4 linked regions of the Homo sapiens genome follow. The protein of the gene in region 4 purifies or fractionates together with the protein of the main gene of each other region. This does not show direct contact. Each region holds a gene or a part of one and is shown on either strand. Other genes may lie near its edges. The genes, in order: INTS12, GBA2, THADA and HACL2.

What was found.
Region 1: the proteins of HACL2 (region 4) and INTS12 purify together in Homo sapiens (co-immunoprecipitation; 3 studies listed by BioGRID and IntAct, with this or other methods). This does not show direct contact.
Region 2: the proteins of HACL2 (region 4) and GBA2 purify together in Homo sapiens (co-immunoprecipitation; 4 studies listed by BioGRID and IntAct, with this or other methods). This does not show direct contact.
Region 3: the proteins of HACL2 (region 4) and THADA purify together in Homo sapiens (co-immunoprecipitation; 3 studies listed by BioGRID and IntAct, with this or other methods). This does not show direct contact.

The regions. Positions count from the first base shown.
Region 1 is NC_000004.12:105,684,265-105,692,188, forward strand, and holds part of INTS12 (integrator complex subunit 12), read right to left. Parts: intron 7,872-7,924; coding exon 7,712-7,871; intron 5,017-7,711; exon of another isoform or gene 4,867-5,016; intron 2,575-4,866; coding exon 2,428-2,574; intron 1-2,427. UniProt on the Homo sapiens protein: Component of the integrator complex, a multiprotein complex that terminates RNA polymerase II (Pol II) transcription in the promoter-proximal region of genes.
Region 2 is NC_000009.12:35,745,305-35,753,317, reverse strand, and holds the start of GBA2 (non-lysosomal glucosylceramidase), read left to right. Parts: upstream 1-4,089; 5' UTR 4,090-4,613; coding exon 4,614-4,972; intron 4,973-8,013. Other genes in the region: MSMP (prostate-associated microseminoprotein precursor), read left to right, coding at 38-218; RGP1 (RAB6A-GEF complex partner protein 2), read right to left, coding at 444-667, 1,173-1,362, 1,564-1,691, 1,906-2,052, 2,329-2,478, 2,577-2,660, 2,939-3,075, 3,447-3,562. UniProt on the Homo sapiens protein: Non-lysosomal glucosylceramidase that catalyzes the hydrolysis of glucosylceramides/GlcCers (such as beta-D-glucosyl-(1<->1')-N-acylsphing-4-enine) to free glucose and ceramides (such as N-acylsphing-4-enine).
Region 3 is NC_000002.12:43,592,355-43,600,283, reverse strand, and holds the start of THADA (tRNA (32-2'-O)-methyltransferase regulator THADA), read left to right. Parts: upstream 1-4,245; 5' UTR 4,246-4,353; exon of another isoform or gene 4,354-4,637; intron 4,638-7,393; exon of another isoform or gene 7,394-7,440; intron 7,441-7,867; 5' UTR 7,868-7,891; coding exon 7,892-7,929. UniProt on the Homo sapiens protein: Together with methyltransferase FTSJ1, methylates the 2'-O-ribose of nucleotides at position 32 of the anticodon loop of substrate tRNAs.
Region 4 is NC_000019.10:15,115,358-15,123,281, reverse strand, and holds part of HACL2 (2-hydroxyacyl-CoA lyase 2), read left to right. Parts: intron 1-38; coding exon 39-166; intron 167-251; coding exon 252-390; intron 391-477; coding exon 478-589; intron 590-3,200; coding exon 3,201-3,300; intron 3,301-3,766; coding exon 3,767-3,864; intron 3,865-3,979; coding exon 3,980-4,116; intron 4,117-5,266; coding exon 5,267-5,401; intron 5,402-6,759; coding exon 6,760-6,874; intron 6,875-6,960; coding exon 6,961-7,130; intron 7,131-7,210; coding exon 7,211-7,281; intron 7,282-7,360; coding exon 7,361-7,432; intron 7,433-7,610; coding exon 7,611-7,716; intron 7,717-7,851; coding exon 7,852-7,924. UniProt on the Homo sapiens protein: Endoplasmic reticulum 2-OH acyl-CoA lyase involved in the cleavage (C1 removal) reaction in the fatty acid alpha-oxydation in a thiamine pyrophosphate (TPP)-dependent manner. Involved in the phytosphingosine degradation pathway.

The sequences.
Region 1 (7,924 bases), on a different chromosome or scaffold from region 4:
TTCAAATTAATTTTGAATTGAACTTCTTATTGACACCTTTTCTACCTTTATACTCTTAAGAAGATTCACAAAAGCATTACATTCACATATAGGTAAAAGATAAAATTTTACAAAATAACATCCTACTTAAAAAATGGTAGTTATTATACCTAAAATATATCCAGTTATAATTTAGAACTTTACTCTGAAATAGTTGATAAAACATTTTTAGCTCTTGAAATCAAGGTAGCCTTCAATATTGTCTGCATGCATACATTTTTAATCAATGTGAAAAGTAACAAAAATAGAGTTCTGAGATATTCGATTTATAAGAGAAGGAATCCAGATATTTGTCCACATACTCTGAAAATTGATAGGAAGTTTTCTTACAGTAACATATTAACTATCTTATGAAGTTATCCAGAGAAGAAAAACTACATAAACCATTTATTCCTAGAGGAATATATACCAGCAATGAGAGAAAAAGTTAGTCAAGAAGTAAACCTTTAATTTTCAGTTATGAAAGACCTAATTTTTTTTCCTTTTCTTGCTATTAAACATAAAACTGTCTGCCATATGGTTAAATGATCTTTCAAAAAACTTCACAAAAGAAAACCCACCTTTAGTAATTAAAAGACCAACACTTAGGAAGTACAAGCAAGAAAGCATGTTCTATGTGTCTGGCATTTCATTTTAATGGCTTGCTGTTGCTTAGTATTGCTTTTCAACAGGATGACAGATGGTTTATAATACTATCAGGACACATAGAAGTAATATAACACAAACAATGGAGACCAAGTGATTTCTTACTATTTCAGTGTAGAAAACAAATTTCTCAAGTTTTTAACTATAAATATTTTCTTGCCTATTTGCTAGATGGGCAAGTTAGAAAAGACATTTGCTTTTTATATGTGAATGGGAACAATTTTTTTATAGTATAAATTTATTCACTTTTATAAAAAGTGAATTTTTTATTAAAGAAACACAAAACCTCTTAATCAAAACAAATATGACAGCAGTCTTTAATTTGTTTGCCATAAAATGATTTCATGTTGAATTTTCTAAAAATAAACTTTAGTAGTAACAGATTAATCTAAAAATCTACTAAAAAGTGATTATATGCAGAATATAGCAACTCTAATTACTTTCAATAAACTGGTTATTCTTACTTCTATTCCAATTCACCAAGTTCCTATATGACAAATCAATAATGGATATGCCTTGGATAGCAAATCTTCCCTGGCAAATTAAAATGAAAAATAATCTCCAAATATAATTATCAATAAGTTTTTAAAAGTATTTCGTATTCATATTCTTTTTCATCACATCAAGGGTATGAAGCTTACTACTTACAGTCACTTAGATAAGGCAATAACTTTAGAGTTTTCTCAGGTCAATCTTTGAGAATTTGAGGCTATTTTTTTTTTAATATTTTTTCTTCCATATTTAGTGCTATGCTTAATATTGGAATGTGTACCTCAGTAAAAGTATTCTTTTTGTTATGAAATTAGATTAGAAAATTATTTTTTTCCATGATATAAAAAGGCCAAGATATTAAGAAATAATGTAGTATGATTTCAAGGATGCAAACTTAGGAATGAGAAAGGTGATACCCTCACTAGACAATGTGGTCCCTTGGTATAAGAGGTAGATAACATTGAAAGTTTATTATAAAGAAACAAAACAAGACAAAGCAAGAAAACTCCTTCAACAGCCAATAAGAAGGGAGAAAAAAAAATTACAAGGCCAATCTGCTCAAGTAGTGTGGGGAGCAAAATTGTTGCTACTGAGGGCAGAGGTATTTTGAATTTAAACCAGATTTCTTTTTCTTTTTTTGAGTTGCAGTTTCGCTCTTGTCACCCAGGCTGGAGTGCAATGGTGCTATCTCAGCTCACTGCAAACTTCGCCTCTGGGGTTCAAGCGATTCTCCTGCCTCAGCCTCCCAAGTAGCTGATCACAGGCACCGCCACTATGCCTGGGAATTACAGGTGCCCATCACCACCCCTGGCTAATTTTTGTATTTTTAGTAGAGATGGGGTTTCATCATGTTGGCCAGGCTGGTCTCAAACTCCTGACCTCAGGTAATCCACCCGCCTTGGCCTCCCAAAGTGCTGGGACTATAGGTGTGAGTCATGGCACCTCGCCTGAATTTAAACCAGATTTCTGATTGAAGACAAATATCTAACCAGATGAGAATGGTAAAGAATGTCATTTTGGAATGATCATAGACTGTTCGTATTTGTGATAAAAAGAAAAACAACAGAGTTAGAGATTAATTAATGATATAAATGTTCCCTTTCTACCTAATATAATAGTAGTAAAGTCTTAATTTCTAAAATATAGCCATTTAGTATATAAAGTTTCTCATTAAATTTTTTATCAAGCAACTATTTTTTAGTCAACTAAACTTTAAGATATAATCTTAGATAAAAATAGAATCTACTATACCTTGACTTCTGTTCTCTTAAACGCTAGAAAAGTTGTCTCTTGTTTCAGTTTAGTTTCTGGTTTCTTAACCAATGGATCTTTGACAGCTGGAGTTACAGAAACAACTGCAGGGGCTGGTTTCTGCGGTGGTTTCTGAGTTTTTTGAGCCTGCAAAAATCAGTGGATTAAATCAGATACAAAATCTTAACTGAATATACAGAAAGATAATAATCCCTCACAGGACTCATCACTGAAATGAAATACAGTTGAACATTTTAAAAAATAGTGTGATGATAATGAATATATATGCTCTTTGACAAATTATTATCATATTAATGGTCTTACAGATTGTATTAGTTTCTAAACAGTAAAGATAATATTAAGCTTTAGAAATAATACAGAAGAGGGTTAGTTAAATACCATTTTAACAAGATAAAATTGTTTTTTAAAGAGCAAAATCACAAACTATATGTAACCGTTAGCTTTACTCATGATGAAGTACATTTATTTCTCATTGGGGTTTGTCAAATACACAAGAGTTTTCTTCTTGGGGTCTAGGCATAAGTCGACTCCTCAGTTGCTGAGGGCAAATTAAAACACAGCTCAGATCATTTATATGGTTTTAAATATAGAACAGGGAGAAAAAAACTATTGATAAATGATTAAACTTTTTGAGGTTTTTCCACATTGCAAAACTAGGCACACTAAATCTTTAGAGAAAGTTAATAAATACAAATTTCTATGTTATGAAAGAATTTTCACCCACTATTATTTTATAAGCATCTTCAGTTTTATTTTGACCAATAACTGATTTTTTCCTTTATTTTATAACTAGGTACTTGACTAAATTTTCCTATAAACTCTAATCATTTTTGAGTTTATTTTTTAGTGTTTTCTAGGTAGATAATTATAACTGTTTATAAATGGTTATGTGCCATGTTTAAGAGTAATTTTCAGAGTCAAACACAGTTAGGATTAAAACCCAGCAACTGGCTGGGTGCAGTGGCTCACGCCTGTAATCCCAGCACTTTGGGAGGCTGAGGCGGGTGGTTCACTTGAGGTCAGGAGTTTGCGAACAGCCAGAACAGCCTGGCCCACATGGTGAAACCCCGTCTCTACTAAAAATACAGAAATTAGCTGGGCATGGTGGCGGGTGCCTGTAATTCCAGCTACTCAGGAGGTTGAGGCAGGAGAATTGCTTGAACCCATTAGGTGGAGGTTGCAGTGAGCCGAGATCGCACCACTGCCCTCCAGCCTGGGCAACAAGAGCAAAACTCCATCTCAAAAAAACAACAACAGAAAAAAAAACAGCAACTATTTTTCTAGATACATTACCTCAGGCAAAATATGTGAATCTCTAAAAGCCTCATTCTCTTCATCTGTAAAATGGTAATAGCATTTGTTTCAAAGGTGGGTTATGAGGATGAATTATGATTATGTAAGAGTTTAGCATAGTGTCTGGAAAATGTTGAGTGCTAACAAAAAGTTACTGTTTATTCATCATTATTATTTACAAAGGATAATCAAACTGAATCCAGAAAAATCCATGCATACTGAACGGGGAAAGATGCTTCCCGCCAGCCATTCCATAGTCTTTGATAATCTTCATAAGCCCATACAGTACTATACCAGGGAATTTATTAACAATTTGTCACCATTTCTGGAAGCCAGAATTTGGCCTATTTTGCTCTTGTTTGGGCCTTCTTGTGTAATCTTGGGCTACTGTTTGCCATACTATATAGTTTGGGTCCTTAAATCTCAATTCGTATCACTTTTTATACTACATACCTTCCACATCAAAGTACACCTACCTTCAACATCACTTATAAAGCAACAATTAGATCAAGAATATTAAGAATGTTCGAAGTAATTCACTGTTGATTACTTGATTACTGGTACTAGCAGGAAAGCAGAGCCATCTTATCCTTCATTGCAAAACCATGTTACGAGAATGCATCCCTCACAGTAAAACAGAAACATATGGCTCCAAAACCATGGCTTTCAATCTTAACACTGCCTTCCACCCACATCTAGCACTCCTGAGGTTAGACTCTGAGGACCCACCTAACTTGTATGTTTTAACAGATAAAGACTAATTATGATGAAGCCCCAGGAAGTACTTCTGCCTGTGAGATCATGTTTCAATCTTCTGCCTTCCCTGTTTTATCCAGCCATCTTAGAAACTGAGTAAGAAATACCCACAACCCTTTGTCCTTTACTGGTAATACTAGTTTAGGGAACTAGGATATAATTACTGATTCAGTTTTGTTCAACAAAGGTACTAAAATTTTCATTGGATGACTGCTTCAAACATTGCAAAATGTATAAAATTCTCCACTAAGGCACTAACTGCCAGAATGGCAGTACTAAAAACCCCACCTATTTCTAAATGCTGCAAAATAGGAGTGTGTTACTACCTTAGATTGAGAACCACTGCAATAAGTGATATGAGTCTCTCACCTGAAGCTGGGGAAAAACTCCACTACTGCGTAGAGAGAAAACTATAGAACTGAAGAATAACCTTGGACCCTGCCATACACGATCACAACATTCTTAACTAGGTCTTCCTACAATGATGTGTACCGCAGAACTTGCCCCAGTTTGAGGAATCTGTTTGAGGAGAAAGGGGATATCAGGTCCTATTTATAATATCTTTGAGATACCTTGGAACAATAACCAATGCACATATGAGAATCTCACTCAAAGCAATTATAGTTAGAATGACTGTATTTAGAATCCCCACTGTTCCAAAATTATCTCATTAAACCTTACATTTCCTGGATTCTGATCTTTAGGCTCACTTCAGATCATGTCTTTTGGTATTTCCCCACATTTGCTCTTGGTGTATTCTAGTCATGTTATAATATTAGCCATGACTCCCCATTTAGTACTTTGACTTCTGGACACACAGACCAGATTCACTGTTGATTTCTGGTACTAATCTGCATTTAGCCTGGCATGGTGGCTCATGCCTATAATCCCAGCACTTTGGGAGGCCGAGGCAGGAGGATCACTTGAGGTCAGGAGTTCGAGACCAGCCCTGGCAATGTAGCAAGACTCCATCTCTACAAAAAATAAAAAAAAAATTAGCTAGGCCTGGTGGCACATGCCTGTAGTCCCAGCTACTTGGGAGGCTGAGGTGGGAGGATTGCTTGAGCCTGGGAGGTCAAGGCTGCAGTGAGCCATGGTCATGCTACTGCACTCCAGCCTAGAAAACAGAGTGAGACCCTGTCTCAGAAAAAGAAAAAAATTACATTTGCTTCATTTTATTTAACTTAAGAACAACAGAATGTAGAATGTGTCCAGTCTTGAGCTCTGCTTAAGTGCTATGCCAATGAATACATGCTCTTACTGATAAATTAGATATTATTTGCAAAGCAGATAAAAGAATAAACAGTATCCCAGATGAAGAGAAGAAGCTGAGAAGCAGAAAATATGGGAACATGAAAGTTCTCCACATATTCAGGGAATGACACACTTAGTCTGTGTCAGAGTGGCCAGAGTGTATGAATGTGTATGCTGAAGCAGTGAGAGAGAGGGCTGTAAGGTAGAGTCGGGTCAAAAAGAGAAGGTCCATATATGCATCCTAATGAGTATAATCTCATTATATAAGTAATTGAGAGCCACTGGGCATATATAAGTAGGTAAATATTTTAGAAGAATTCTAATGATAGTAAGCAAAGTGGATTGATAGGAGGCAAGGAGATTTATTAAGTGGCTATTGCAATAGACAAGTAATGGATTTGTGGAACAGGGTAATAAAAGAGAAATGAATAGATTTCAGAGACATATAAGAGGTAGAATTAGCAAATCTGGTAAACAATGGGATATGGAATTAAAAGAGGCATCAAAGATGTTTTCTAATTCAGGCAATTGCAGAAAAAAAAAACTGGATAATAGAACAACTTTCACTTTTAAATATATTGACCTTAAAGTATCTATAGACTATCTAGTTAGCTATAGAAGCTCACCCAGGAAGAGGGTTAGAACCATAAACATAGATTTGACATAAATCAGAAAAAATGGAGGAGAAAAAACTTGGGGGAAGAACAGTGCTTACTTTAGATATTAAAGGAGCTAAAGTGATAATAATAATGAAACAGTTGAGTACATACTAAAGAAAGATAGATTATTGTCACAATTTGTTTCTTTTGACAATTTCCAATTCTTAGTGGTTTCTTATCAATGCTCTGGAATGCATTGCTCATCTGTAATAATTTCACTTGAGATCCTGGAGGGCTAGTTTAAATAATAAATTAAATAAAAACCAAACTGAGCAGAACAGATTGTAACTTGTCATAGAAATTTCCTGTTACAAGTAAGAAATATACACACTATTGATATACACACTTTTCATTTACTACTTTTTATTTCATAGGAATAAATAAAAACACTTCCTATTTCTGATTTAACTGATTAAAAAGTAAAATGGGTATCCCGAGTTTTTACTTTTAACTAAGTACTTCTGACCTTTAAAAGATATATTGGTTAGACAAATTTATATAGAAATTCATTTGATTAACAGACATGAGAACTCTGCAATTGAGAATCACTAATTTAAGGCAGGGGAAGAGAGATGGAAGTGGGAGGGAGAGGTGGAGAATAAGACATTATGGCAATTTCTTGTTTTCTTTAAAAGAAAAATTATGAAATTCATTTATCATTTATCTATTTTATAAGTGAATAAAAGTTAGAAAACTATCCAATATAACAAATGAAAAGATATTTCACTATGATATTAAAGGCAGGTATGTTAGTCAACAGTAAAAAGAGAAAGTACATAGGAAGAATGAGGTAATGGTCACTTGAGGACAATGAGAAGGAAAGACTAAGCAACAGAGAAATGCAGCTGGAAAGACAGATATGCACATATAAATATCGCCTCTGTACACATCTTATCCATGCGGTGGTTTAAGCTCACTCAGAAATTTTCTATATTTCCTTACCAGATCTCAACAAAGAGTGGGGCTTTGTATCTCACCACTTCTCAGTGCTGCATGGTATTTTAAAATGTTTGTCAATACATTGACAGACTAGTAAGGAATATTCATAATTTGTGTGTCACCAATCTTGTTTTATCTATATTAGAATTAGATAAAACTAAAAAGAGAAAAATGCACATAACATGGTCTGGTCTTTAGCAATAGAAATATTAATCACATGTACATACTATACATATAAATAAATAATCAGCTTATATTATTTATTTTTTCAATATCTTAAATATTCAAATCTTTGTTTTGAAAGCACATACCAACAAAAACATTGACAGACTGTTTAAAATAAAGAAAAATATGATTCCTACCATTCTTTTCATTTGTCTGGTACATCGGGCACAATACCACACCAGGCGAGGGTCATTCGCTTCCTTGTCTGTCACCTGGGGTTTATGACAATCTCGGTGGTAGAGATTATGGCACTCCTGACATTCTACTAATTGATTGCCAGATGCCACCATCATTTGCCTAAGAAAACATACCATTAAACATTACACTACTTTTTTAAATGCCATAATTTA
Region 2 (8,013 bases), on a different chromosome or scaffold from region 4:
ACTGTGCTGACTCCTTCCCCTATCCTTGGTTCCCCAGGTCCCAGCATCCCATCGACTTCCCGGCTGGGTGTGAGGTACGTCAGGAGGCAGGAACCTGCCAGTTCTCCTTGGTGCAAAAATCTGACCCTCGGCTGCCCTGCAAAGGGGGAGGGCCTGACCCAGAATGGGGCTCAGCCAACACCCCTGTTCCTGGGGCTCCTGCTCCCCACTCCAGCTAAACTCAACTGATCATCCATCTGCTGACTGCTCACTGCTGCTGCCACTTCCAGGGAAACCACTAGCAGCTGCCAATGTATTCTGAACAAATAAATTAATGCTATAGCTGAAAGCCCGACTCTCACTGTCCACGACATTGGACCCCAGGTGGAAAAAGTGGGTCCCATTAGAGTCCAGGTGCTGAGTTCTCAGTATCCGGAAGGAACTAGCACCAGGGTGGGCCAGTTTCAGATGGTTATGGTGCTGGTGCTGGGGCCTGGGGCAGCATATGAGGCCAGGGTGGGGCTAGTAGGCAGCACCTTGATGGGCAGGTCCCAGCTGAAGGTGTCTACAGGTACTTGCTCAGGTCCTGTCCAGGTGGTAGGTTCGGGCTGTTCCACAGGGGGTAGGAGTACCAATCCTGGTTCTCGGGACGTTACAAATTCAAAATGCAATCTCCACTTCAAGGACACTATGGAAGAAAAAGATTAAGGTAGAAGCATCAGAAGCTAGCAGGAGTAAAAGCCAATGACAGGATATAGTTAGTGAATGAGAAGAAAACAATCTGTGTTCAGGAAGACAGGGAAAAGTCACAGGGCAGGGAGCTGTGATTAAGGGTTTTTCTGAAGCAATGGGTACTACCACAGATGTGAGCTGAAGATAGCAGTATTAAGTACCTAATAACCTAAGAGTGAGGCAGTCAAGTCTAGGTAGCATGAAGTAATCAAAAATCAGTGTATCACAGGGTCCTAGTAGGTAGGTGTGGGGAAGGAGTTCTATCAAGCTGTTAGGAGTTTAGGGGTCAGTGCATCTAAGAAACAGGAAGAGGTTGAAGGTCTGAGAAACTGTTCCGGGTCAGAGGCTAGACGTGGGTATGTCTGGGAGTGTGTATAAGGAATCAGGATCCATTACACCCTCCCTTAGCACAGCATTTTACTGTCCCCCTCTCCCTTCTCCAGTAACAGTGAGGGTCTCACCAATGGCTGTACAGAAGCCTGGGGTGGAGCTGAGAGGGATTGGGAGGGAGAAGCTGGTTCTAGTTGTATGTAGGCAGGATTCCTGGTGCCGGGCGTGAGTCACATGTGACACAGAGGGGACACCCCCTGCCCCACGTCGCCGCTGGTACTCAGGCTGTACACGCTCCTCGGTCTGTAAGCTGACTGAAAACTGGGAGCAAGAGACAGGTGTGTGCTAACAGGAAGTGCTGTCTGTAGGTGAGAGGACAGCCCAACCTCAAGCTGTTTTACAAAGGGACCCTGGATGACCCCACTATCCCCTTCTACATGCCACCCCTCTTTATACAGGCCTTCCACCCTAGCCCTTCAACCCCAGCACCCCAGCAGGTAAGAAGCTCTGCTCCCTTCTTACCTGCAAACAAGCTACGGTTCCTTCCCCTAAGTTTAAGGTCCCCACCACGTCCTCGCCAAGTCTGTACACAGATTTGAAGATGCCAAACGTCCCAACTTTCCCTCGGCCATCACTGATATTGTATAGATCTGGGGAGAATAGGACACTATAAGCCTGGAGTCTACATACTGGATAACGTCTAGGACTGGGCACCACAGGCCAAAAGATGGGGCTTTTCTTTAAAATTGGAGGTGTCAGGTATCAGTGGATCCACAGAAGTGTGTGGTGGTTAGGAGACTGTCTCTGAGATGGGAAAACAATGAGGGGAAGGATGGGGTAGGACAATTCTGAAAGAATTCTCACGGAGGCTGCGGCAGGATGTGGCAGCCATTAGGCGTTCCCCAGCCAGCTCAGCTAGCCATGAATCTTTCTTCCCACCTTCATCCTCCTCCAAGAATGGACTGGATGGGGCTACAGCCTCATCCTGGGGAAACCGGACATCCTGAAGGCCTAGAGAAAGAATGAGTGGAGAGGTAATGCTGAGAGGGAACGGAGATGAGAGTAGAGGTTAGGGTTTTAGATTCTAACATGAGATGGCTAAAGGTAAGGGGTGCCAGGGCTGAGGTTTACATCTCTATCTCCAGAACCCTCCCTCCCTTCCCAACTCCCTAGCACTGTCACTGAGACCAGGAAGTTTCCCTGCAGTCCCTCTTGCAAGCCCTCTAAGACAATTTCTGCTTTGGCATCGCCCTTCCCCAGCCCTTCCCTCCAGGAGCCCTTGCTTACCAGTCAGCACAAGAACCCTCAGAGGGACTCTGAGTAAAGTGATAGGGGAGTTGACACGCTGGCAGCCAATGGTCAGTTTGTAGACGTACTTGACTGACTGACCCCGAAAGGAGGGTGGTCCCTCTATGGGCAGCACTTCACTGTAGGAGTCTGGTTGGGAAGTAGTTGTCAGGACAGCCAGAGGCACCAGAGGAGTCCTCCCTCCAGGAGACTTAGAAGGCAATTCAGGGATGGGGACAATCACTCACATGATTTGGACTCTCCAGGATCAAGCCTCAGGTCACAGAATAGAATTTTCGGTGGAGTAGAAAGGATACACTGGCCCCTCTCACCTGAAAAAGGTAAAAATGACTAATTTAATGACCCATTGTCCAGTACTGAACAAGACTAGCACGGCAAGTGGAGATAGTGAAAGGCTGCCAGGCCCTCCGTCCCTGCTGTGAAATGGGAATAGTCTTCTACCCCTAAAGCAATAGTCATGCTCCCCAACATCCCCAGCATGACAGGGACTATAAGAACAAGAACAATTAACAACTTCACCCATGGGTGACAATGCCTCCACACACACCCTCCGCACCCCCCCTCTCCCAGGCAAATGCCCCTCTCTAACCTCGGTGTGGCAGAAAGACAGTCTGGCTGTCGGGCTGGACATCTGGCTGACTAGAGTCAGGAGGAGGCAGTGCTACTCGACTCTCACTGGCATGGAACTGGCAGTGGATTTGGGCACTGGCCCAGGCCAGGGCCTCACTGTGGGAAAAGGAAAAGGAGGCATCAGAGGTAGTTCCTGACCTCACAAATGCTTTCCCAAGCTCCCTATCACACCATCTTAACCAACAAGGTTAGATGGCTGTCCTAGTGATCAGGAAATCCACAATCCCAAAGAGAAACCATTAAATAAAGAGTAGCAGACTGTGCGTAAAAAGGGGAACGGGGGAGGGGAAGGAAAGCGTACAGCTATGTCATCCACATCTTCTGTTAAAGAGCCCTCTCCTACAATGACAGCACAGTGAGCAAGAGGAGGTGGTGTCGCTACAGGACAACCTGAGCTCTGCCTCAGCCCCAGAGATAATCTGGCTTCTTCCCAGAAGGGCCACCACCTTCAGTGCCAGCATCCCCACCTGGATGCAGAAGTGGCCGTGGGCGGAAGGGGGTTGGTGACGGTCACTACACACTCCAGCGCCTCCCCAGCCAAAAATACAGGACCCCGGCTGAGCTCTGCTACCACTTCAATCATGGCAGCTCCGGAATCAGATCTAGAAGGAAACAAGGCGGGGCGGAGGTCAGCACCTTGACAGGGAGGGGCGTTGCGGTGAGCACCTAGGGCTGAGGGCTGAGGACAGGGGTGGTCAGCACCGTGGTGCCCGAGGGAGCTCCTGGATATAGGAGGGGTAGGCGGGTGGGAGGGAGGCGACTGAAGACTCAGTACTGCCCAGGGGGAGGACATCGCTCTGGGCCCTAGACCCCAGCCCCTGTGCGACGGGTTCTTCTCCCTGGGCACCCCCGCGGAGTTCCCAAACTGGCCTCCGCTCCCCCTTTCCTCAAAGTTCCACGTCCCAGCCCAAGATCACCGCCGCTAGTCACCTCGCATAGTCGACACTAGGGATCGGCACCCCTAGGCCTCATCTGCCCGCCCCTCAGGGACCTGGCTAGGTACGCGGCGGCGGCGGCGGCGGCGGCGTCCGCTGGGCGGTAGAGGCGGGACTTCCCTTCGGTCCCCCACCCTCCGCGGAGTCCCTTCCGGCCGGAAGCGCCCGGCAGGCCAGACCGGAAAGGGCTCGGGTCATCCCGGCGCCCAGGGTCACCTTCCCACGGGCTGGCACCTGGGCGCGGGCGCTGCCCCGGAGCCGGCCGGCGGGACCTGGCGCCCAATCCTGGGGGACCCGGTGCCGTGGCCCAGGGGCCGGGCCGAGGTCCCGGGGGCGGTGCCTTGCGGGCCCGTCCCGGGGCGGTGCCTGGTGGGCTGGCCCCGCGGCTCCTCCCCTCTCTGCGGGCCCAGTCGCCCTTTGGCCGGGCGAGCTAATCGTCGGCTCAATGACGACGAGGCCCGACCCTTCCCGTCCAGGACCTACAGAGACAACCGAAGGAGAGCCCAAGGCGGCTTCTTTGCTGTCGCCGCCCCCACTGAAGCAAGAGCTCCCCGGCTCCACTGAAACACCAGCTCATTTAAGCTTTCCCCAACGCCCGGCCCTCCGGGACGATACCTAACAACGACCGGCGCCCGCATCTGGAATAGGCTGGCGAGATACTTAGTATCCGAGGGCTCGGGACTTGGCGCCATCGAGGTCATGGGGACCCAGGATCCAGGGAACATGGGAACCGGCGTCCCAGCCTCGGAGCAGATAAGCTGTGCCAAAGAGGATCCACAAGTTTATTGCCCTGAAGAGACTGGCGGCACCAAGGATGTGCAGGTTACAGACTGTAAGAGTCCCGAAGACAGCCGACCCCCAAAAGAGACGGACTGCTGCAATCCGGAGGACTCTGGGCAGCTGATGGTTTCCTATGAGGGTAAAGCTATGGGCTACCAGGTGCCTCCCTTTGGCTGGCGCATCTGTCTGGCTCATGAGTTTACAGAGAAGAGGAAACCCTTTCAAGCTAACAACGTCTCCCTAAGCAACATGATAAAGCATATAGGCATGGGCTTGAGGTGAGTAGACCCCATTGCCTAGAATGCCTTTGGCTTCACTTTGTTCCAGCTCAAAACTTCTAGCAGAGGTGGGAAAGGGCAAGAAAGCAGTTGGGCTTCTTGTCTGAGTGAAGCGGTCCCTATCCCTGGCATATTTTAGGCCTGTGGTTTTGGACCGTGAGACCAGGTCACATCTCTTTGCAACACCCTTCCCTCCCAGTGTTTTGTCTTTTCAGAAGGAAAGGGTAGGAACATTTGGTCATGCAATCAGCCTTTCCCATTCAGGCTCTTCTCACATACTGGTTTCCAATGACTTCCCTTTGGGATTAGCTATACTTTGTGGCAAGGTAGGAAAGGATAATCTGGCTGCTGTGATACTAACACAATGTTGTTTTATTTGGGGGTGGGGGGGTCTCAACCCCTTATTTCCCACAAGCAGCTGGGGCATTCTCTGTACCTCATTAGACACACTGTTAGAGTCCCAACACTACTGCTTCTTTCTTCAAGCTTTAGCTCCAGGGAGTAGGTAAGAAGAGCCTCCCTGCCCTCACCTCTGAAGTGATGAGAAGGTGCTGTCATTCTGTTCTGGGATAGAGAGCTCTTGATATTAAGTCATTTATCAGAGAGGCACTGCCATAGATGTAGAACCCATCTAGATCCCCACTGAGTTCAAAGACTAGTGATGAGGAGCCAGACCCATTAACAGGAACAGGTGGATGTGAGGACAGAAAGCATCACCCTGAGGTCATCCTGACTCAGTCTACACAATACACACAGAACTGTGGAGGGAGGCATAAAGCTTGGGAAACCCTGCCCTTACAGTTTCTAGAGTAGGAGACCCTTCATTTCCCCAGTCAGTGCTGTGGGGCTGTGATGGGGAGATCAGTTATCTAACCCTAGCCCTGGGGAGTGGGAAGGGCCTGATGCTGCCTGCACATCTGGCTTTGTTGGTGCCTGTGGGTAGCCTGTAGCAGAGAAGAATCATCCCTCCAGGCTGCTTCTGGAATCAATTCAGTCCAAGTTTGACCCCAAAAGTTTTTGCATCAAAATAGGATCTAGTGTACATAGAGAAGTACACTGAGTTGCATGTGGTAGGAACAATGAGATCAAGAAAAGATGGGCATCCTAGCCTCTTAGCCCTTAAATATGAACTGAGTCATAGAGGCCTGAAGCTGTGCTCAACCCCCTGGACCCTGGCTCCCCATTCCAGGATAGAGTGGGGGGTACTGATACAAGGCTTTTGGAATAGGATGAGTTCCTATGAGGAGAAAGCACAGGTGAGACAAGAATTCTAAGTGATAACTCTTGAGTTGAGGTTGAAATTGTGGAGAAGGCCAAATAGGTCAGGAATGGCCAGCTACCATATTAAGGGAGTAAGAGAGCTCCTAAGATGGAGCTGAACTGTGGGCACTCTGACCAGGAGCTCTAGCAAGACAGAATTCTCTGGGTCTTACCTTCGTAAGAACTCAATTTCAATTGTTCTCCCTTCCAGCCAGAGTCCACTCATTCAATAAATATTTATTGAGTGCTTGTTCCATGCCAGATAGTCCTTTGTTCTGTCTGTCCTCATAGATTGCAGTTACTCTCCCTGGTTGCCCTAATCCTCGGCCACACCCTCCCTCTACCAGTCCTTTCTGGTCTCTAGTTTCAAAGTCCGGTTTTCTCTAAGCTGGCAGAGAGGATTCTCTGCCTTCCTGTCATCCCATCCTTTGTCTTCCCTCTTCTTTCCACCCCTAGAATGTGCTGTCCCTTTTTATTTTATTATTATTTTTTTTTTGAGACAGTCTTGCTCTTGTCACCCAGGCTGGAGTACAATGGTGCAATCTCAGCTCAGTGCAACCTCCGTCTCCTGGGTTCAAGCGATTCTCCTGCCTCAGCCTCCTGAGTAGCTGGGATTGCAGGTGCCTGCCACCACAGCTGGCTAATGTTTTTGTATTTTTAGTAGAGACGGGGTTTCACCACATTGGCCAGGCTGGTCTTGAACTCCTGACCTCACGTGATCCGCCCACCTCGGCCTCTCAAAGTGCTGGGATTACAGGTGTGAGCCACCGTGCCTGGCCGCTGTCCCTATTCATTAATCACATTTCTTCTCCTCTGCTCCAGTCTGTTATCTCTCTTGTGCCCCATCATTTGTATGTTCATTCATCTGTAAAATTGGCAAATATGCATTGACTGCAGACCATATGTCCTACCCTGTGCTTGGACCTGAGGGTAATATTCAGCTAGTCTTTGTCATTGTCCCTTTCCCCAAGGAACTTAAAAGTATGTCAGCCTCACATGAGGAACATTGAAATAACAAGGCAATGTCTGATTAGGAATTGAGATAACAGTTTGTATATATGAGTAATAATCATACCTGTACTTTATGGCTTTCTTATCTATTATGTCATTTGATCTTTCAACCATTTCATTAGATAGCTAGAGCAGGTGGTATCCCCATTTTGTAGATGAGGAAACTGGGACTTAGGGGTTACTTACCCAATTATTTGGTTAGAAGTGGTGTGACTGAACAGTAGGCATAATGTGGCAGTAGGCAGGAGAGTGGAAATGGGAAAGAGTCTGGCAGGGCAGGGGCTACTTAGTGAGGACCCATCTGGAATGAGAATTTGTAGGAAATAAGATTAGAAGATAGGCTGGGACAGATGTCAGAGCCTTGAAAACAGAATCGTTTGCCTATTGAAAACAGCCTCAATCATTTGCCTCTTGGATATAGGGCTGTACCAAGCCCAGGAAAATGTTGGGATTTTTTGAAGGCTTTACCAAGAGCAAAATCAGAAAGCTTCACAGTTTAAATGTTGAATTTAAAAAAAAAAAAAAAAAAGGCTTGAGAGGAAATGTCCAGAAATAAATATAAACACTGATTGTCTATGGGTGAGATTATTTTTTTCCCCCTTTCACCTTTCATAATTAGAAAGAAAAATGATCATTTTAAAAAGAAGAAAGGCCAGAAGCGGTAGCTCACGCCTCTAATCCCAGCACTTTGGGAGGCCGAGGCGGGCGGATCACCTGAGGTCAGGAGTTCAAGACCAGCCTGGCTAACATGGTGAAACCCCATCTCTACT
Region 3 (7,929 bases), on a different chromosome or scaffold from region 4:
CCCGGGTTCAAGTGATTCTCCTGCTTCAGCCTCCCAAGTAGCTGGGATTACAGGCATGCACCACCATGCCTGGCTAATTTTGTATTTTTTAGTAGAGACAGGGTTTCTCCATATTGGTCAGGCTGGTCTCAAACTCCTGACCTCAGGTGATCTGCCCGCCTTGGCCTCCCAAAGTGCTGAGATTACAGGTGTGAGCCACTGTGCCTGGCCCTTCTTTTGAGAATTGCCCATTCATATCCTTAGCCCTTTTTGATGGAATTGTTTGTTTTTTTCTTACTGATTTGTTTGAGTTCATTGTAGATTCCGGATATTAGTCCTTTGTCAGATTTATAGATTGTGAAGATTTTCTCCCACTCTGTGGGTTACCTGTTTACTCTGCTGACTGTTCTTTGCCGTGCAAAAGCTCTTTACTTTAACTAAGTCCCAACTATTTATCTCTGTTTTTATTGTATTTGCTTTTGAGTTCTTGGTCATGAAATCCTTGCCTAAGCCAACGTCAGGGTTTTTCCAATGTTATCTTCTAGAGTTTTTAGAGTGTCAGGTCTTAGATTTAAATCCTTAACCCATCTTGAGTTGATTTTTGTATAAGGTGAGAGATGAGGATTCAGTTTCATTCTCCTATGTGTGACTAGCCAATTATCTCAGCATCTTTTGTTGAAAAGGGTGTCCTTTCCCAACTTTAGGTTTTTGTTTGCTTTGTCGAAGCTCAGTTGGCCATAAGTATTTGGGTTTATTTCTGGGTTCTCTATTCTGTTCCATTGGTCTATGTGCCTATTTTTATACCAGTACTATGCTGTTTCGGTGACTATGGCCTTATAGCATAGTTTGAAATCAGGTAGTGTGATGCCTCCAGATTTGTTATTTCTGCTTAGTCTTGCTTTGGCTATGCGGGCTCTTTTTTTGTTCCATATGAATTTTAGCATTGTTTTTTCTAATTCTGTGAGGAATAATGGTGGTATTTCGATGGGGATTGCATTGGATTTGTAGATTGCTTTTGGCAGTATACTTCCTCTAGGTGTTACCATTCCATTTATCTGCCCCTTGCGTACTAGAAGGACTAGAAGGAGTTGCCTCTGCTTGATCTTGCCAATTCCTCTCTTCCCAGTCTCTTTTAAACCCATTCAAATCTGCTCCAAGTAAACTTTGGCAACTTCATCCTTCTAGGTGCTCAGGCCAGAAACTTTGGACTCATCTTTGACTCTTCATTTCTTCATACCCATATTCTATCCTTCAGAAAAAAATCCTGTTAGCTCTGCTTTCAAATTATATCCAAAACCTGTCCACTTCCCGCTCTCCACTGCTACCACCCTGGTCAGTGCCACCAGCATCCTGCCTGCCTAGTTTACCACAACAGCCTCACTGGGCTTCCTGCAGGCTCTACAGTCTTTTATTTTTTTTTCTGTTTTGTGACGGAGTCTCACTCTGCAGCTCAAGCTGGAGTGCAGTGGCGCAATGCTAGCTCACTGCAACCTCTGCCTCTGGGGCTCAAGCAATTCTCGTGCCTCAGCCTCCCGAGTAGCTGCGACTACAGGCACACAACATCATGCCCAGCTAATTTTTTTTTTGCATTTTTGTAGAGACGAGGTTTCACCATGTTCCCCAGGGTGGTCTTGAACTTCTGAGCTCAGGTGATCCACCCGCCTCAGCCTCCCAAAGCGTTGGGATTACAGGCGTGAGCCACCGCGTCCGACCTACAGTCTCTTCTTAACAAAGTAGCTCCAGTGATTATTTTGAAATGTACATTAGATGTTATTATTCTTTTGCTCAAAATCACTCCTCATTTCATGAAAGAGTCCATGAAATAATGTGAAAGCCTTATATAATCCAAAGCCCCTTGTCCCACTCCTTAGTATTTACCTTGCTTGGCTCCGGCCACTCTTGCCTCCTTGCTATTCTCCCAGCAGGCAAGCCCTGCCCTGGAAACTTTGTACTGGCTGTTCCCTCTGTATGGAAGGTTTCCCCTTCACCAAGTGTCTATGTCTCTTGGAAATCTTTACTCAGTGAGGCCTACCCTGATTACCCTATTTAAAGTTGCAATGTACCTCCCCTATACTCTCACTTTCCATTCCCCTATTTTTTCCATGGCGGTGTTAAATTGAACTAAATACCGCCTGAGAAAGCCTCTGCACTTCCATATTTGAGTCCTTGTGGATGAACCATAACCTAACTTAGTAGGTAGACAAGACTGAAAGCCTAATTTAGGAGTGTGCTTCTGTAACAATAGCTGAGTTTCAGCCAATCCCAGCAGCCATACTTCAACTATTCATACAATGCTTACTGTTCAAACTGTGTTCAGGTAAGGCAAATGCCAAGCTGTAACCCATCCAGCTGCTTCCGTACCTCACTTGCTTTTTGTACATCACTTTCCTTTCTTTGTCTGTAAATGTGCTCTGACCACGAGGCATCCCTGGAGTCTCTCTGAATCTGCTATGATTCTGGAGACTGCCCGATTTGAGAATCATTTTTCCCCTTGCTCAATTAAACCCTGTTAAGTTTAATTTGTCTGAAGTTTTAACAGTAGCTTCACCTTTCAACATATGTTTATTATGTTTGCTCCCTAGCCCACCTCTCGCTGTGCAGGGTGAAGAGTTGCAGTGTCTGCCAACAAAAAAGGGGTTCGGACCCACTGAGTTATATAATTAGTAGGTCTGAAACAATATACATATTTTAAAAAACATAAAACTTAAAAATGGTTAAAATGGTAAATTTTGCTGTGTATTTTACCATAATTTAGAAAAAAAGGAAATAAAATCTCACAGCTCCTGTAAAGTAGCATTTCAAGAAATTTTTACTTCAGTTATGTGTGAGTACTTCTACGTCCACAGTTTCAAAGTCTGCAATGTATTTCTTACTATGTCAGGGTCAAAAATACCAGAAAAAATTATGGTGGAGAACCGTCTGCACACACTCACCAGCTGACATGCACAACATAGTTCACAGCAGCAATGTTTAGAACAAAAACTGGAAATAATGCACATGTTAAGAGGCAGCAGGATGGATACATAATGAAGTATATTAAACAATGGAAAATTACGGTCCGGGCGCCATGGCTCACGCCTGTAATCCCAGCACTTTTGGAGACCGAGGCGGGCGAATCACGAGGTCAGGAGTTCAAGACCAGCATGAGCAACATGGTGAAACCCCGTCTCCACTAAAAAATACAAAAATTAGCTGAGCGTGGTGGCGCGCGCCTGTAATCCCGGTTACTTAGGAGGCTGAGGCAGGAGAATCACTTGAACCCGGGAGGCAGAGTTTGCAGTGAGCCGAGATCGCGCCACTGCACTCCAGCCTGGGCGAAGAGCACTACAGCCACCTGTAGGTGAATATGAAAAGCAATGCTGAAAGAAGCAAATTGCTGGAGAATACATACGCAATTCCAAAAGCTTCAAAATTGAACGAAACAAGATAGTGATACATACATTATGTGGTAAAGCTATAAAGAAAACCAAGGCAAGCTGATATAAAAAATTCAGAAAATAATTATTAAAAACTTAAGTCATTAACGTTTAGAGAACTGAAATGTCTCTATTTTCCAAATTAATACTCCTGATAATAGCATCAGGTCTTTCCTGATCTTGCCCACTGTCGCAGCTCCCAGTGACACCCCGTTATTGTATTTATTTTTCAAGGACTGAACCATCTGACAATTTGTATGTGCTGCGTAATACATGTATCCTCAGTAGGGGATAGCTTTCAAGGCTAGCGCTTGGCGACGCTCTGACAGTAGAGTTCATTATCTATTGAATGAATATATGCGCTTTGGCACACGTTGGTTCAGCACTACTCATTTTAGTCCGAATCCTTCTCGTGGCTTCCGTTCAGTCGCCGCCCAAACCCCTGCCCCATCTCGCAGGCTCTAAACTCCCTGGACTCGTTCCCGAGTCCCAGACGTAGTTTTCTCCTAGACTCTGCACTGGGCCAACAGAGTGGGAGAAAGGTGGAAGGTCTGGATTGGGAGAAAAGCGCTTCCCAGGCGTCCAAGCATGTGAAGAGAATGAGGTCTTTTCATTCAACAAGAGACCGTTGAATGAAGGCCCCTCAGCAACAAGGCCCGTCAGCCCTAACGCCATGAGGAACGCGCGGCGCTGACGGTACAGTGGCTGGTTAACTAAACCGGATTGCTACCGGCCACCCCGGTGACGTCACGACCTCCTCGAACTCCTGATTGGAGGAGCTGCGTTTGGTCAATTCTCGCGATGACTCCTCCAGGTTACCCCTCTCTCCCTCCCTTTGCCCTGACCCGGTAGTCGACCGTGGACCGCGCTGCGAGCCTCGGAGACGCCGTAGAAGGAGACCTGCTTCCGGGACTGGACCAGGCGCCTGCGACTCTTCTCAGACGCCGACGTGCACGAGGTTTGGCTCCCAGGTGTCCTGCCTGCCAGACCCGCGGTAGCTCGGCTCGGCCAGTTTTGCTAGGGCTGCCTGGCGAGCCACACCAATTCCCATCCTTTGGTATCGCCAGGATTCGGCGGCTGTGAAACTGATTTCCGGTCGCTAAGGTCTCCATGGAGACAGCACTTTAACCACTTTCTCCCACTGTCATTCCTCGACTCCACGTGGTTCAGAAATCGCCCAGAGAATGTTTGTGGGAGTCAGCCAGGAAGGTGTAGAGTGAAGCAGCGTTCTAAAGGGAAGCAGTAAGTGGGACCTAGGAGGAGTGTAATTTACTGGGCACCTTCTGGCCTTGCGGTAGACACGGGATTTACCCCCTTGGGGACCCTGGTTCTTCAGGACACACGTTTAGGCATCATTTGAGCAGGCATAATTACCGAGTCTGCTTTTGTGTAGCCCTCAGAATTGCAAGAGCAAATCCTCCTGCAAACTTGCTTACCTTTCACCAGAGAATAGTCTCCCTAGTTAGGTTTCCCAGTCTCTTCTGGCTTTGTACGATGGTCACTTTCTTAGGAAGCGTGCCTCTATTCCTCTAGATCTGACTATCCCTTTACAAATTATTCTGTTGTCGACACTTTCCTAGCTGCGTCCATTTTTGGTTAAGTGGTTGCTCACCTGCCATTACTGTATGGATTTCTTACTTCCCAAACAGACCATAGGTTCTTAAGATGTAGAATGTCACTTAGATGTAGAATGCATTTTAGGTACCAGATAGTCCACCTTCCTGCCCTTAAAGACATATATCCCTTCTAGAACATCTCTGACAAATGTTTGTTAATTAATTTGTTTATTCGTGAAGTGTTTGTTAAACACCTACTATGTGCCAGGCACTGGTTTGGAAATTGAGACTTGAAACATGAACAAAATAGATTAAAGTTGCTGCCTTCATTCAGTTTGCTACTAGGTGAGACAGACAATATACAAATTTACAAGTTAGGGTAATTTCTGGTACTAGTAAGTGCTATGAAGAAAATTAACGGAAATGGTGTCTACGTGTGTTGTATTGGTGAGATTTTAGATAGAGTGGTCATGGAAGGCTTTTAGAAGGTAATGTTGCAGCAGAAACATGAATGGTGAGAAGGAGTCAGTCTTGCAAAGATGTGGAATGAACATTAAGGGGCAGAGATACTGAGAAGTGTAAAGCCTCTTAGGTGGGAATAAGAGCATCAGGAAGTACAAAGCTCTTGAGATGGTGAAGAGGAGATTGGTTTGAGATGAAGAGTGGAGGAAGGCAGGGTCAGATTATTTAGGGCCTTGAAGGGCAAAATCTCAAGTATTTATTTATTTATTTATTTATTTATTTATTTGAGATGGAGTTTCGCTCTTGTCTCCCAGGCTGGAGTGCAGTGGCACGATCTCGGCTCACTGCAACCTCTGCCTCCTGGGTTCAAGCCATTCTCCTGCCTCAGCCTCCGGAGTAGCTGGGGTTATAGGCGCCTGCCACCACACCCGGCTAATTTTTGTATTTTTAGTTAGTGCAGACGGGGTTTCACCATGTTGGCCAGGCTGGTCTTGAACTCCTGACTTCAGGAGATCCACCCGCCTCGGCCTCCCAAAGTGCTGGGATTACAGGCACGAGCCCCCACTCCTGGCCTCAAGTTTGAATTTTATTCTAAGTGTATTTAGAAACCCTTGGAAAGTTTTAAGGAAGAGAGTAAGTAATTCAATTTGATGAGAGTTTTTTTTAAAGAGATTGCTTTGATGATTGTAAACAGAATGGGCTCTTTGGAGGTAAGTGTAGAAGTCAGGAGACCAGTTAGGGAGCTGTTTCAGGAGTCCAAGAGAAAATATTCAGTCATCTTCTCTTTGAATATTCCTGGTGTTGGAAAATTTCTTTGTTTAAAAGGTAGCCCAGTCCTTAGTGGGACCATAGAGCTTTTCCTTTGTATTGATCTGGAATCTGTTTCCCTGTAGCTTGTACTGACTTTTACTAATCTAATAGCAAGACAAGAAGTCTAAGGCTGGGCGCGGTGGCTCACGCCTGTAATCCCAGCACTTTGGGGGGCCGAGGTGGGTGGATCACGAGGTCAGGAGATCGAGACCATCCTGGCTAACATGATGAAACCCCGTCTCTACTAAAAATAGAAAAAATTAGCCGGGCGTGGTGGCGGGCGCCTGTAGTCCCAGCTACTCGGGAGGCTGAGGCAGGAGAATGGCCTGAACCCAGGAGGCTGAGCTTGCAGTGAGCGCAGATCGCGCCACTGCACTCCAGCATGGGCGAAGGAGCAAGACTCCGTCTCAAAAAAAAAAAAAAAAAAAAAGTCTGTAGTAGACAAATAAATCTATTCCCTTTTTCTCCAAAACAGTCTAGCAGCTGTTTTAAGGCTCTTGTTCTGTTGACTTTTTCTCCAGGCCAAACACCTTTGGTTAACTGAGCTGTTCTCTGAAGGAGGTGCTCTCTAGGTCCTTCAGAAATAGTTCCATTGTTTGTTATGGCTCCTTAGAGTATGGCCGCCAGCGCTGTACCTAATGCTCTACATGTCACCTGGCCTGTTTGAATAAAATCATGCACTCTGATATGGCTGACTTCTGTGGTTTTTGGCAGTCATCTTGGGCTGTTGAGCTGTTTCAAACCACGTTTTGCCTCTCCAGCCTCTCTTTCTGTGTTTTTTTCCCCTAAACTAAATGCAGCCCTTTGTATTTATTTCTGTTTCATCTTGGTAAATTTCATATTGCTCGTTATTCCAGTTTATTGACCTGTTTTTATTCCTGATTCCATCATTCAACATGTCCTTCCAGATTTATTTTATACATGTACTACATTATAGTCTCTAATATTTGCATCATAAATACTGCTAAAGATGCTAACTGCATCAAGAGAAGAGCCCTATGACATTTCCCTAGCAACTTCTTTCCAGATGGCATGGTACTATTAGTGTGTAGTTGTGTAGTCTCTGAGTTGGGTTGTTTAGCCTGTTATGAACCCGTTGATTTGTTAAGTATCGATAAAAGCAAACTCAAGAGAATAGCATTAAAAAAATATTTTTTTTCATTTTTGCAGAAATCAGGACACGGTAGTACCTCCTCTTAGTCTAATGAGTCACTGAGGTTAGTTTGAAGTATTTTATCTTTGGAAAAACTATCCCAGTTTTTTTGTGTGTATGTTCACTAAAAGGAAAGTTTGCTGTATTTTAAAATACAAAGACTGAGTCATAGTAGGTAAAATAACTTCAGTCAGTAATAAGCTTCAGCTTAAAACATTTTTCTTCTTCAAATCAGAAATTCTTAGACAGTGATTCTCATTCTGGAGCAGTTTTGCTCCCCAGGGGACACTTCACAGTGTTTGGAGACATATTTTGGTTGTCAGAACTTGGGAGGGAGGAGGGTGCCACTGGCATCTAGTGGGTAGAGATGGGGATGCATGAAACATAATGCATAGGATGATACTGTTCAACAAAGAATGAACCCAGCCAAAAATCATAGTGCTGAGGTTGAGAAACCTTACATTAATGCCTTAAAGTCTTCTTTCTTGCAGTGACTACTATTAATTCTATTTAAAATGGGTGTAAAGAAGAAGAAAGAAATGCAAGTTGCTGC
Region 4 (7,924 bases):
AGAGAGTGGGCATGGCTGTGATGGGCTCTGTGTTCCAGGGACGGTGGGCGTGGCGGCAGTGACAGCAGGCCCTGGCCTCACCAACACGGTGACTGCGGTGAAGAATGCTCAGATGGCTCAGTCCCCAATCCTGCTTCTGGGTGGGGCTGCCAGCACTCTGCTGCAGGTACCCAGTCCTTGGGGGCCAGTGGGGGCCTAGGGGGGCTTGAAGGGCTCATGCGATAACCCTGCCACACCTCTGTCTTTGCCAGAACCGGGGTGCGCTCCAGGCTGTTGATCAGCTGTCCCTTTTCCGGCCACTCTGTAAGTTTTGTGTGTCTGTGCGGAGGGTGCGGGACATTGTGCCCACCCTGAGGGCCGCGATGGCTGCCGCCCAGTCGGGCACCCCAGGTAGGTGGAGGATGGTGATGCTGAGCAGTGCTGGGGCCGAGGGGCTGGGGACATGTTATGGACTCAGCGTCCTCCCTGTCCCTGCAGGTCCGGTGTTTGTGGAGCTGCCCGTTGACGTGCTGTACCCCTACTTCATGGTCCAGAAGGAGATGGTGCCAGCCAAGCCACCCAAGGGCCTCGTGGGCCGAGTGGTCTCCTGGTGAATAGCCCCACCCCTGCCATTCCCTCCTTTATCCCCCGTTCTCTCCTGCAGCTTCCAGCCCACACCCATCCTCCTTTGATTCACATGTGGACTGGGAGGAGACAGCTGGGGGGAGAGCATTCCAGGTAGAAGGAACAGCATGTGCAAAGGTCCTGAGGCAGGAATGAACTGGGTGGGTAGGGAAAGCAAGGCGGCCCTCGTGGAGGCAGCAAAGGGGAGAGGCTCAGGACAGCCCTCCTCCTCCTCCTTTTCCCTTTCTTCTCCTCCTCCATCATCTCTTCTTCCTCCTCTTCCTCCTCCCTCTTCCTTCCTCTTCTCCTCCCTTTCCCCCACCACCTTTCCCATCGTCCTCTCCGTTTTCCTCCTCCTAAAGGATGATCCTTGAACCTCGGAAGGGAGGTTCATTCTTACATTTACAGAGGAGGAAGCTCAGAAAGGTGAAGTCACTTGCCCAAAGTCACACAGCTAAGAAGTGGCAGAGCCCAGGCCGGGTGCGGTGGCTCTCACTTGTAATCCCAGCACATTGGGAGGCCGAGGTGGGCAGATCACGAGGTCAGGAGATCGAGACCATCCTGGCTAACATGGTGAAACCCCATCTCTACTAAAAATACAAAAAAAAAAAAAATTAGCCGGGCGTGGTGGCGGGCGCCTGTAGTCCCAGCTACTTGGGAGGCTGCGGCAGGAGAATGGCGTGAACCCAGGAGGTGGAGCTTGCAGTGAGCCAAGATCGTGCTACTGCACTCCAGCCTGGGTGACAGAGCAAGACTCCGTCTCAAAAAAAAAAAAAAAAGTGGCAGAGCCCAGACTCGAGCCCTCTCCTTCCTCCTCCTTTCCTTCCCTCACATCTTTGTCCTTTTCTTTCTTTTTTTTTTTTTTTGAAACAGATTCTTCGTTCTGTTGCCTAGGCTTGAGTGCAGTGGCGTGATCTCGGCTCACTGCAACCTCCGCCTCCCCCTGGGTTCAAGTGATTTTCCTGCCTCAGCCTTCTGAGTAGCTGGGACTACAGGCGCCCGCCACCACACCTGGCTAATACTTGTATTTTTAGTAGAGACGAGGTTTCATCATGTTGGCCAGGCTGGTCTTGAACTCTTAACCTCAAGTGATCCACCCTCCTCGGCCTCTCAAACATTACAGACATGAGCCACTGCGCCTGGCCTCTTCTCTTCTTCTTCTTCCTTTCCTTTCTTCTCCTCCTCCTCTTCCTCTTCTTCCTCCTTCTCTCCCTTCCCCTCAGTCCCTTCCCTTTGCCTGTCCTTGGCCCTTCCTTTCCATACATTTAGCGAGCGGCAGCCATGTGCCAGGTTCCAGGACAGGCACGGGGCATCATCAGTGGACAAGGTAGTCAGGCTCCTGTACTCCGGATGTGTGTGAAGCGCCTGAGGGTCAGCTCAGGCAGTAGTGATTTTGTTCTATGGCCTCTTTATTTTTTTTGAGACGGAGTCTCGCTTTGTCCCCCAGGTTGGAGCGCAGTAGTGCGATCTTGGCTCACTGCAACCTCCACCTCCCGGGTTCAAGTGATTCTCCTGCCTCAGCCCCCGGAGTAGCTGGGAATACAGGTGCAGTCCACCATACCCAGCTAATTTTTGTATTTTTAGTAGAGATGAGGTTTCACCATTTTGGTCATATAGCCTCATTCTTAATGCACTTTGCCCCCTGGCTTCCCAGTCAGTCCCTCCCCTTGTTCTCCTTGCCCCTCTCTCTTGGGCTGCCTCTCACAAGGCTATCTCTTATCTTGCCTTTTTTGTTTTGTTTTGTTTTGAGACAGGGCCTCACTCTATCACCCAGGCTGGAGTGCAGTGGTATGATCATAGCTCACCACAGCCTTGAACTCCTGGCCTCGAGCAATCCTCCTGCCTCAGCCTCCCTTGCCTTTTCTTTACTTGCGGGGCTTCCCACGGTTCCATCCTGGGCTGCTTCTGTGCTGTCTTGGCCTGTCCTTAACGGTGAAAGCAGAGGCTTCTGACTCTGAGCTCCGACTGTTTCCTGCCAATGCCCATGTGTCTGTCTTTCGCTGGATAGAGCGCCCCCTGAGGGGAGGGCTGGGCAGGATCTATCTTTGTGTCTCCAGGGCCCTGCACAGGTCCTTCAGGAAAGTTGGGGCCCTGGGGCCCAGTGAGCAAGGAGACCGAGAAGACCCTGTTTGAAGCAGGAGAGGACAGTGTTCAGAACTCCCATGCAAAGCGCCTCATGTCCTAAGTGGACAGATCCTTGAACCTGGGGAGGGAGGTTCATATTTACATTGACAGAGGTGGAAGCTCAGAAGGGTGAAGTCACTTGCCCTAAGTTGCACAGCTAGGAAGTGACAGAGCCAGGACTTGAGCTCACATCTGTTGGACCCACAGGCTTAATCCTGGCATGCTGAGCCTGCGTTCCTTGCTTCTGGGGGGCTACGTGGAGTTGGGGTGGACCCCAGAGGCTACCGAGGGCAAACAGGCAGTTGAAGACCTGGCCACTAGGGTTCGTCTGTCCCTGAGGTGTCACTCATCCACCCTGTCCCCATGCCACTTTGCTCCTGGCTTTTCTCCCGGCCCCTTTCCTTGCTCAGATCCTGGAATCCTTGTAGTTAGTTAATTCTGGCAACTTGGTTTCTTCCCCCTCCCTTTTGCAGGTATTTAGAGAATTACCTGGCCAACCTCTTTGCAGGAGCCTGGGAGCCTCAGCCCGAGGGACCGCTGCCCCTGGACATCCCCCAGGCTTCCCCGCAGCAGGTGAATTGCCTCTCTTTTGTGTCTGAGGACCCTACCCTCTCCCTGAGGGGAGAGGGCCCCCTGACCCTCTCCCTGAGTCAGTACTGGGGCCTTAATCTTGGGTGCTCATGGCGACTCAAGGGCGGCCCTTTGGCTGGACGCGGTGGCTCACAGCAGCAATCCCAACACTTAGGGAGGCCGAGGCAGGCGGATCACTTGAGGCCAGGAGTTCAAGACTAGCCTGGCCAACATGGTGAAACCCTGTCTCTACTGAAAATACAAAAGTTAGCCAGGCATGGTGGCACGCGCCTGTAATCCCAGCTACTCTGGAGGCTGAGGCGGGAGAATCGTTTGAACCTGGGAGGTGGAGGCTGCAGTGAGCTGAGATCATGCCATTACACTCTATCCTGGGCAACAGAGTGAAACTGTGTCTCAAAAAAATAAATAAATAAAAAGACAGCCCTTTGATCCCCACCTCTCGCTCCAGGTTCAGCGCTGTGTGGAGATCCTGAGCCGGGCCAAGAGGCCTCTGATGGTGCTGGGGAGTCAGGCCCTGCTCACCCCAACGTCTGCCGACAAGCTTCGGTGAGAAGCGCCAGCCCTGCCCTTGTTTTCACGTTCCCAGTCCCCAGTCCTCGGGTGCTCTTGGGGAGGCGGGAGGCCCCGGCCACACTGACCTCTGCTCTGCCTGGACTCCCAGGGCTGCCGTGGAGACCTTGGGTGTTCCCTGCTTCCTTGGAGGGATGGCACGGGGGCTGTTAGGCCGCAACCACCCCCTCCACATCCGGGAGAACCGCAGTGCGGCCCTGAAGAAGGCGGATGTCATTGTCCTAGCAGGTGGGCCTGAGCCTCTTCCTTTCCCTCCTTCCCCCAGGAACCCCCTCACCCTGTTACCCAGCTTCACACGAAGGAGGAGGAAGGTCTAGTGGGCACCTATTGTACTTGATACACATTTTCACATAAAGCGCTTTGAACCCAACCAGACGCATAATAGGTGTATCAGATAGCTACTGCCCTGTAACAACCATCCCCAAACTCAATGGCTAAAAATGCATTTCTGATTTCTCAAGATCCACCTATAAGGTAGGTGGTAGCTGTGGTTTTGGCTGGGCTCATTCATGAGTCTGCACTTGGGTTAGGCAGGAAGGCAGCTGTGCTGATCCAGGCTGGGCTTGCTCACCTGTATGGGGATTGGCTGGCCCTGCAGCTCGTCTGGGATGGCCTCAGCTGGGGTCATAGAGTTCTTCACCCCTGTCTCCATGGCCCCCTTGTTTCTCATCCTCCAGTAGGCTAGCCTGGGCTGGCCGACTTGGTGAAGGATGAGAAAACTATGGGGCTAGGAGAGTGCGGTTATTCAAGAGAGTGAGTGGAGGCTGTGTGGCTTCTTGAAGTAGAGTCTGCAGGAATGGGGGGTGGGGGTCCTGAATCATCTGGAGGTGTCTTCACTCAGAGGTCTTGCAATTGACGCCAGCTGTTGGAGGGGCTGTGGACTAGGGCAACTACACAGGTCTCTATGTGTGGCTCCGGTTTCCTCCCAGCATGATGGCCTCAGGGTAGTCAGACTTCTTAGACAGAGAGCACATTCCTTGGCCCCACCCAGGCCTCTAAAAGTGAACAAGGAAGAAACTGCATATCTTCCTTGTTGGGTGTCATGGTGTGTCACTTTCAAGGAAAGGGGACCTAGGCTGCACCTCTCTCCATGGGAGGCATGTCAAGGTGACCTTGTACAAATGGATGTAGGGTGGGAGATATTATGGCCATCTGGGAAAATATAACCTGCCTCTGCCCTATCCTGTTGGCCAAAGCATGTCATGAGGCCAGTCCCGATTCAGGGGGTGTGGGGAGCTGCAAGGTCACTGTAGGTGGCACAGGTGCAGGGAGACTCGGTGAGGAACAGGGACTCATTTGCATCCAGTCCACCACAGTGGATCAAGTAAGGTAGACGACATGGGGCCTCTGCCTACTGCATTCCTGTCCCCCACACCAGGAACTGTGTGTGACTTCCGCCTATCCTATGGCCGTGTCCTCAGCCACAGCAGCAAGATCATCATCGTCAATCGTAATCGGGAAGAGATGTTGCTCAACTCAGACATCTTCTGGAAGCCCCAGGAGGCTGTGCAGGGTGAGCCCCTTAATCCCCCCGTACACATATGTGCTCCTCCCAGTCCCTCTCCTCCTGGTTTCTGCTGCAGCTGGCTTGAGCCTGGTACAGTGATTGAGGCCCAGACCTTGCCCTAGGGGTAGCCAGTCAACCAGAGACAAATAGTTGGCTCTCAAACTGATGAATGCTTCTTTCTTTAAATTTTTTTTATTTTTATTTTTTAGAGACGAGGTCTCGCTCTGTCACCCAGGCTGGAATGCAGTAGTGCAATCACAGCTCACTGCACCCTCAAACTCCCAGGCTCAAAAGCAATCCTCCCACCTCAGCCTCCTGAGTAGCTGGGACTACAAGTATGCACCACCATGCCAGGCTAATTTGTTAATTTTTTTTTGTGGAATCAGCATCTCACTGTGTTGCCCAGGTTGGCGTGGAACTCCTGGCCTCAAGTGATCCTCCTGCCTCGGCCTCTCAAAAGTGCTGGGATTACAGACCAGAGCTACTGCGCCCGGCCTGATAGATGCTTCTGTAGGAACAAATGGTGGGGTGGACACAGAGGGAGGCTTGAAAACGTGCATGTGATCACGTTCCCTCCCACACTGCCCACTGCCCTCAGGACAGAGAGCACACTCGTTGGCCCCTTAGCCTGTCTTCCTGCCGTATCTCTCCCCTCCCCTTATTTTAGTCCCCTTGGACTTGAACTTGGTTCATCATTCTGAGGATGTTGACTCCCCTGCAGCCTAGGCGACAGGACACTCTTGTATTAAGCAGAGAAGTAGCACCGTTGCATCTGTGTTGGGAAGGTCCACTCAGCAGCCATGGACGGCAGGCCGGAAGGGGGCTGGGTGGAGGCCAGGGGGGCTGCTCAAAATGGCCAGGACAGAAGCGAGGAGGCCTGAACTGGAGATGAACAGCGGCAGAGCCTCACCTTCTCAGAGCCTCCATTTGATCATTTGAAAAATGGGGTGGTGAAAGATACATCACGGGGCTGTTTGTTAGTTCACTTCAGTAACGTTCGCTGTGCGCTTCCACGTGCCTGGATTTGAGAGATGTGCTTGGTGGATGTAGCTCTTTTCATTGAGTGTTTCCCAGGCAGAAGGAGGTGGAGGGAGGGGACGAGGCCAGCTTGGGTTTGTCACCTGCCTTGTGCTCCTTAACCCTTGTTTCTTGGGCCTTGTCTTCCCTTTTCACCTGGGCTGCCCTCCCCTGGTTCTGGCAGGTTCTGGGGTGTTTCACCTGTTTTTTTTCTAGGAGCACCCCTGGCCTGCTTCCCGTCTGCCTGCTCGGATGCTGCTGCTGGCTTCCTGCTGTTTTGAGGCCTCTGATGCTGGAAGAACAGGAGGAAGCCAGCTCCCCACAGCTGTGTCCTCTTCCTTCCCCAGGAGATGTGGGTTCCTTCGTGCTGAAGTTAGTGGAGGGCCTTCAGGGCCAGACCTGGGCCCCAGACTGGGTGGAGGAGCTGCGGGAAGCCGACCGGCAGAAGGAGCAGACCTTTCGGTGGGGCCTGGGTGGAGTGGATGTGGGAAGGGGGTTCCCGGCAGACCCTGCTGCCAACCCTGGTGACCTTCGCTGTCCTGTCGCAGGGAGAAGGCAGCGATGCCTGTGGCCCAGCACCTGAACCCAGTGCAGGTGCTGCAGCTGGTGGAGGAAACGCTACCTGACAACTCAATTCTGGTGGTGGATGGCGGGGACTTCGTGGGCACTGCTGCCCATCTGGTACAGCCCCGCGGCCCCCTGCGCTGGCTCGATCCTGGTAAGGAAGGGCCCCCGCCTGGGGCAGTGGGCACCATCCATCAGGACGCCTTCACACCCACCTGCTCTTGGTCCTCTTAGGGGCCTTTGGGACTCTGGGAGTTGGTGCAGGATTTGCACTTGGGGCCAAGCTGTGCCGGCCAGATGCTGAGGTGAGGCACTGGAGTTGGGAGACTTGCTGCTCTCTAGGTCCTGATCCACCCTAACCATCCTGGGTCCCCTCCCGACTAGGTCTGGTGCCTGTTTGGGGACGGAGCTTTTGGCTACAGCCTCATCGAATTTGATACATTCGTCAGACACAAGGTGACTGGGCTGGCCTGAGGGAAGCTTAGGGCCTGGGGTTCTGGGAGATGTCACCAGGGGTGGGCTGAGGTGGGGAGGGAGCCTCCTCTCTGGCAGAGGCCCTATCCCTGTCTCTGTCCTCTGGCTGGCCAAGCCATGGGGCTGAAGGCTGCGGCCTGCCTTCATCATCTTCCTGTAGATCCCAGTGATGGCCTTGGTAGGGAATGATGCTGGCTGGACACAGATTTCTCGGGAGCAGGTGCCCTCTCTGGGCAGCAACGTGGCCTGTGGCCTGGCCTACACTGGTGAGGGGGCCTCAGCGAGGTTGGGAGGACAGGAGGCTGTTTCAGTCCCAGCTGGGCTTGTGTTCCTCTCCTGGGCTGGCTGCATGTGCGGTGGGCTGAGTCCTTGCCACTATCCGACTTAATCTCTTCTTTTAGATTATCACAAGGCAGCCATGGGTCTGGGGGCCCGGGGCTTGCTGCTCTCACGGGAGAACGAGGATCAGGTGGT